Linked DNA regions of Homo sapiens. The protein of the gene in region 2 purifies or fractionates together with the protein of the main gene of each other region. This does not show direct contact. Each region holds a gene or a part of one and is shown on either strand. Other genes may lie near its edges.

Evidence for each region.
Region 1: the proteins of EIF2S3 (region 2) and EIF3CL purify together in Homo sapiens (affinity purification with mass spectrometry; one large-scale study listed by BioGRID and IntAct). This does not show direct contact.

Annotation. Positions count from the first base shown.
Region 1 is NC_000016.10:28,390,318-28,393,971, forward strand, and holds part of EIF3CL (eukaryotic translation initiation factor 3 subunit C-like protein), read right to left. Parts: intron 1,826-3,654; coding exon 1,663-1,825; intron 1,539-1,662; coding exon 1,435-1,538; intron 735-1,434; exon of another isoform or gene 665-734; coding exon 523-664; intron 329-522; coding exon 203-328; intron 68-202; coding exon 1-67. UniProt on the Homo sapiens protein: Component of the eukaryotic translation initiation factor 3 (eIF-3) complex, which is required for several steps in the initiation of protein synthesis.
Region 2 is NC_000023.11:24,061,367-24,065,020, forward strand, and holds part of EIF2S3 (eukaryotic translation initiation factor 2 subunit 3), read left to right. Parts: intron 1-1,049; coding exon 1,050-1,208; intron 1,209-2,834; coding exon 2,835-2,969; intron 2,970-3,654. UniProt on the Homo sapiens protein: Member of the eIF2 complex that functions in the early steps of protein synthesis by forming a ternary complex with GTP and initiator tRNA.

The DNA of each region.
Region 1 (3,654 bases), on a different chromosome or scaffold from region 2:
TTATTTTGGTAAATTCTTCATCCATTCGTTCCACCAGAGTTAGGATGCAGCCACGGACACGCAGTGGCTGAAAAGGAAGGCGAAGGAGGAGTCAACAAATTAGCCCAGATCTCAGTCTCAAACCTCAACCCTCGGGTCCCACTGAGCCTTCCCAAAGCATAAAATACACACCTCCAGTTATCCTGCCAACTCCTCCCTTTACCTGGTCAGCGTTGTGCAGGTTCTCACTCTCTTCCAGAATATTCTCTCCAACAAAAATGTTGGGATTTGCAAACAGGATATCCATCAGCTCATTGATGCAGTCCAGGCACTTCCCCCACATCTCTGGCTGCCAAGATTTCAGGCCACATCAGAGTCAGAGGTGTGAAGGTAGAGTAAGCGGATGCCTCCCCCTTCAGCAGGAATCATGGGGCCTTCCACCACCAAGACTGCCTCCATAGCCCCTGAGTCTTAAGATGCTAGGTACCTTCTTCCCCCAACCCACCAGCGATGCCCTGAGATGAGCCTCTTCACTGCTCTCACCTTCATGTAGGTTGCCAGGTTGGGGTTGTAGTCATAGAGAGAGGCGATGATATTGAACTTGATCTTGACAATGACGCCCTCTCCCAGGTTGTTTTCCGCTGCAATCTGAACCAGCAGTTGCAGCAGCTCAATCTGGGCAGCACTAGAGGGCCAGAGAGCTGGGTGAGGCTTTGGAGACAAATCACAAAGTCTCTCCCAGCATGCCCGCTTCGGATAACGCGCCCTCCTCATCACCCATATCCCTGCTTCTCCTTTATAAATTCCAAACAGAAGCAACAATAATCCCAACCATCCTGGAATGCTGTGAAATGCTTCACACCTACCACCATCCTCTGTTACCTAATAACTAAAGAAGGTAAACACTCTTTTACTTTTTTAATCTTAAAAAAAAAAAAAGCCAGGTGTGGTAGCTCATGCCTGTAATCCCAGCACTTTGGGAGGCTGAGGCAGGCGGATCACTTGAAGTCAGGAGTTCGAGACATGGTGAAACCCCATCTCTACTAAAAGTACAAAATCAGCCAGGGATGGTGGCGGGTTCCTGTAATCCCAGCTACTCAGGAGGCTGAGGCAGGAGAATCGGTTGAACCCAGAAGGCAAAAAGGTTGCAGTGAGCCGAGATCGCGCCAGTGCACTCCAGCCTGGGCAACAACGAGACTCCATCTCAAACAAAAAAAAAAAAAAAAAAAAAAAGAGGAGAACATTATCTCATTGTATAGATGGGAAAACAGATCCAAAACGTTAAGTGATTGGTTTTAAGTCACAAGAAGAGTAAACAGCAGATAATGGACGGGGATGCCCCAAGCATACAATTCCCTCTACTACAGCCACACACAGACCCTCCCAACAATCCCTTCCCCCAACCTCCACCCTCTGCCACCCTGCAATCCCACTGCCCAGGCCCACGAATCTTACCGATCAGTTCCCTTCTTGCCTCGTGCCTGTAGGATCTCATTCAGTTTCTTGATAACAACAGCATGGGTGATCTCAGTTCCCTTGGCAAACATTTTTGGCTTCTCCTGTATCAGTACATATCCCGTCATGTACATGCCAGCGGGAAACTGTCCTTGCCTTTTCCCCACAAGGGGACCTTTATGTCCTCCCAAACTGTTCCCCAATTCATTTTACCTCTGAAACCCTCACCTTAACCAACGGCACTCCGCCCCGGACCCTTTCCCACTCCCCGCCTTCATTGTCCTCCTCCTCCTCCTCATCCAGGCGCTTGGATTTCCTGTCGTGCTTCTTCTTAGCTTTGTCCTCCCGTTTCTTCTCGGCTGCCTTCTTGTCCTCATCTGTGGTGGGTGCCCTGCCGACAGACATGGGAGAAGATGACAGATCAGCCCCTCCCCACCTCTAAGGCTTCTTCCTCCCATCAACTTCCTCTTTTCCTCCAGCAGCTCCTGGGTCCAAGTTATGCTCTACAACAATGACCTAGAGGGCACAGTGAACCATAACCATAGCCATCTCTAACAAGACAGAGTACTAACCAGGCCACTGTAGACATATTAATAGAAACAACCTGTCAGCTAAGCATGGTAGATCACTTGATGTCAGGAATCCAAGACCAGCCTGGGCAACATGGTGGAACCCCATCTCTACTAAAAGTACAAAAATTAGCCAGGCATGGTGGTGCACGCCTGTAGTCCCAGCTACTTAGGAGGCTGAGGCACGAGAATCACTTGAACTTGGGAGGCAGAGAAGGCTGCAGTGAGCCACAATCATGCCACTGCACTTAAGCCGGGGTGACAGAGCAAGACTCAGTCTCCAAAAAAACAAAACAAAACAAAACAAAAAAAAACCAACCTGTCATTTTGCTCCAAAGCTAACATCTACAGTTTTCCAAAGAATCCACAAACAACTTATTTTCTTTGATACCAGCTGCTTTCTCCAGACTGACCAACTAATCAATGAATCAGTTCCCCCAAATATATAAAAACATTTTTTTCTTTTTTACTATTCCTAAACTGTTTTATCGCTTTCTCTCCTCTCTTGACAACCGATTAATCTAAATTCTGAATTTTAAAAAAATGTTCATTACAAAAAAGGTCCCCACAAAACAGAAAAAGATCACCAGCTACCTTAAAATGGTCTTAGGCTACTGGATGTTGCCTGAAACCATCTCCAGACTTGAGTATGTATTTATGTAACAAAATACAAACCAAATGGCAAAGACAAATTACTTCAAACTTTGCACAGATACTGAAGAATAAATCTTTCCAGAAAGACTCAACATTTTTGAAAACTCATATGTAATAACCATAATCTACCATTTGAACATTTATAAATAAATTTCATTTTCACTGCTTAAAAGGTTTGAATATGTTTTTGGAATAGTCTATAAGTTTACCAGTTAAATTAAGTCTTCCCTTGCCAGAAGACCAATGCCATAACTCTCAACAAAAGTGTATGGACTGGCCAAGCACGGTGGCTCAAGCCTGTAATCCCAGCACTTTGGGAGGCCGAGGTGGGCGTATTGCTTGAGCCCAGGAGTTTGAGACCAGTCTGGGTGACAAGGTAAAAAGCCCGTCTCTATTAAAAACAACAACAACAACAACAACAACAACAACAAAAGCTTATGGATCTTTCCCCTGTACCACTGCAAGACTCTAATGATGACTCACTTTATAGGTAAAATCCTTTGCAAATATGCAAAGCATGTTCATTAAACTAAAACCTCTTGGTCCAAACCATCTGTATAGCTCTGAGATCAGAAGAACTAAAGCTATTTTTTAAAATGAATGCTTCAAAAGAACTTAAACTTCCTTGGCTAAAGTATTACTTCTAGCACTAAAGATAGTATGATACACACCTCAAAAGGGAAATGTACTATTGTATGAAATTCTAACTGAAAGACCTAAGACTTGGCTTGACCTCTCCTATGACAGATTATACTCTGGTATATTCATATCTTGTTAGAAATTATCAGATAACAAATGTTTATATCCTCAGCTATATAATCAACAGATAAAAGCAACATTTCTAAACGAGTATTACCTCTACTTAATACATAGTTAAGAGACTAAAAACTCATTATTGAGAGACACCAACGGAAGTCAGGCCTAACTACACTGCAGAGGACCACACCATTTTCCCATGCCTTCCCAACCACAACTACTGATGGAAAGCCCTAGATGT
Region 2 (3,654 bases):
TGGCCAACATGGTGAAACCCTGCCTCTATTAAAAATACGAAAATTAGCCGGGTGTGGTGGGGCACACCTGTAATCACAGCTACTCAGGAGGCTGAGGCAGGAGAATCGCTTGAACTTGGGAGGCGGAGGTTGCAGTGAGCCGAGGTGACGCCACTGCACTCCAGCCTGGGTGACAGAGACAGAGTGAGACTCAGTCTCAAAAAAAAAATTTTTTTTTTAAAGCATGCCATGTTGGTATAGTCAGGACACTTGAATATCACGACTTGAGGAGGTTGATCATTAGAGTGCTCAACAAAACATGCCTATTTCTTTATAATACACTGTTGGTTATCTTCACAATAGCATTCTTCCCTCCCTCAGTTGAAGAGTAGCCTCTGATATTAGTAAAAATTCATAGACAGTATTAAGTGCTTTTCCCTTTTAATTACTCTCTACTTCTCAGGAGCTTGCCTGGGCCAGAACATTTCTAAAACTGGAGAGAGTTAGAGGGCTATACCTCATACCTGAGCAAAAGCTGAGTGCAGACCCTGAGAAAAGCCAAACTTGCTGATTTTAAGCTTCTTGCTTAGGACCAGGATTGGGAGCCACACAATTGGGAGGTTCCAGTGAATGCAGGCAACAGAGGATGAAGCAGGGCCAAAAGGTGGATACCTGGCAATAATATCTTCCTTATTAGGGTTAGAACATTCAGAAGTCTCCTTTATTAGATGCCAACTTTTTTTGGGGCGGGGAGTGGGTGGCAAAAGAGACTCATAAAATGTACCATTTTATGTATTTACAGGGTAGAATTTAGTGGCATTAAGCACATTGACAATTTTCTACAACATAGTGGTTGTCATTTCACCACTATCTAGTTCCAGAACTTTTGTATCAGAACTTTTGTATCACCGCAAAAGGAAACCCCATGCCCATGAAGCGTCAGTCCACATGTTTTCCTCCCCCAGCCCCTTGCAACCCATAATTTGCTTTGTCTCTTTATGGATTTGCCCGCCTATTCTGGATATTTCCAGCTATTCTTATATGCATCTTTTTTATTCTTCATCAACTAGCTGGTAATGAATCTTGCCCTCAGCCTCAGACATCGGAACACCTGGCTGCTATAGAGATCATGAAACTGAAGCATATTTTGATTCTACAAAATAAAATTGATTTGGTAAAAGAAAGTCAGGCTAAAGAACAATACGAGCAGATCCTTGCATTTGTCCAAGGTAAGAAGCCATAATATGAAATAAATCTATGAATCACTTTGAGAGGCATTTACTCTGGATACCAGATGTTAAATTAACTTTTAATATATTATCTAAAACAAGGTAAACTTACAAGTCTTAAGCCTTATCGCCCTACCTTTTGCTTGTTAGTAACCTGATATAACTAATGAAACCTGTGATTCTGAATTTAATATACTAAAGTATATTTTTGCTGGCAGCAAGTTAGAACTGAGGTTGTTTTCTGGAAACTTTATCAATCAGATTAAAAAAAATCTCAGTGACAGTAAAATGAATAAAATAATTTTAAAAAACCTTGTCTTACAGTATTTGTTACTGAACAGCTTTCAGATTTGGAAGTGACAGTGATTATTTAATCTCTAGAGTGTCGGCCGGGCATGGTGGCTCACACCTGTAATCCCAGCACTTTGGGAGGCTGAGGCAGGTGGATCATCTGAGGTCGGAAGTTCGAGACCAGCCTGACCAACACGGAGAAACCCCATCTCTACTAAAAATACAAAATTAGCAGGGTGTGGTGGCACATGCCTGTAATCCCAGCTACTTGGGAGGCTGAGGCAGGAGAATCGCTTGAACTTGGGGGGCGGAGGTTGCGGTGAGCCGAGATCACGCCATTGCACTCCAGCCTGGGCAACAAGAGCGAAACTCCATCTCAAATAAATAAATAATAAATCTCTAGAGTGTCCCTTCTCTAATAGCATAATGTTTTTCATTTCAGAGGAGATGTGATTTATTGTTGACATTTTCTCTCTCAGTCTTGTTTTTCTTTTTAGAAAGGTTAATTTCTTATGAACTCAGTTCTGTCATCACGAGAAGTAATAAGTGAATTTGATTAAAGTCTAATTGTGTTTGGTCTATTTCTTTGACTAGCTTGTTTGACGTATAATCAATACGTAGCAAATATATATGGTTGGGCGTGGTAGCTCACACTTGTAATACCAAGACTTTAGGAGGCTGAGGCGGGTGGGTCACTTGAGTCCAGGGGTTCAAGACCAACCTGGGCCACGTGGTAAAACTCTGTCAATACAAAAAATTAGCTGGGCTTGGTGGCACACACCTGTGTTCCCAGCTATTATGTAGGAGGCTGAAGTGGGAGGATCGCTTGGGCCTGGGAAGTGGAGGTTGCAACAAGCCGTGATTATGCCACTGCAGTCTAGCCTGGGTGACAAAGCGAGACCCTATCTCCAAAAAAAAAAAGTATATATGCCAGCAGTCTTTGATTAGCAGAGTCTGTAATTTTATCTTGACATTTATTGGGAGATTAATTACATGTTGTTAGAAATTTTTTCAACTAGTAGAGTGCTCTTTCACAGGAATGTTAGTATTTTCTTTATTTAAATAAGTTTATCATTGTACTAATATTAAGTATGTCTACTAATATAATGTAACAAATTTTCTCTTACAGGGATTTGTATTCATTTTCAGGAGTAAAAACAAACAATATTGCCATCTTTCTAAACAGAATTATCCACTTTCCACTTGTTGCTGACATTTATATGGGGTTTAGGCATCTATTTTATTATAGTAATCTTAATTGTTTTATGTAACAGATACATAGAATAAATTTTATAAAACTGTATAATTTTGATCTTTCTAAATTTTGTCATATAGGTACAGTAGCAGAGGGAGCTCCCATTATTCCAATTTCAGCTCAGCTGAAATACAATATTGAAGTTGTTTGTGAGTACATAGTAAAGAAAATTCCAGTACCCCCAAGAGACTTTACTTCAGAGCCCCGGCTTATTGGTAAGTGATAGGATTTGCCTTTAACTCTTAATCTGATCTTTTCCACATTGGTGATTCCTCTTCAAGGATGTTTATTAATATTTCCTCTTTCTGCAGAGGTGATAATTCATACAATTTTTTTGAAATCAATTCTGAGATTGTATTGGCAGTGCTAGATTGTATTACTGAATGAGGGACAGAGTCCTGAACACAGTAAGAACTGTTAACCTAAGCCGGGCGCAGTGGCTCACGCCTATAATCCCAATACTTTGGGGGGCCGAGGTGGGTGGATCACCTGAGTTCAGGAGTTTGAGACCAGCCTGATCAGCATGGTGAAACCCTGTCTCTACTAAACATATAAAAAATTAACTGGGCATGGTGGCGGGTGCCTGTAATCCCAGCTACTCGGGAGGCTGAGGCAGGAGAATGGCGCGAACCCGGGAAGCGGAGGTTGCAATGAGCTGAGATCGCGCCATTGTACTCCAGCCTGGGCAACAAGAGTGAAACTGCGTCTCAAAAAAACCCAAAAACAACTGCTAACCTTTCTGTGCTTAATATATGGTACATGATCAAGATGGAGTAATACAGTATTCTCCATGGAATCATAATGTTTTAGGGTGTTAGAACTTCCTGACTAAAACATTTACAGATGATTTTGTTGTTCAATTAACGAAGAACTGATACTGGTATAATTTGATCACCTAGG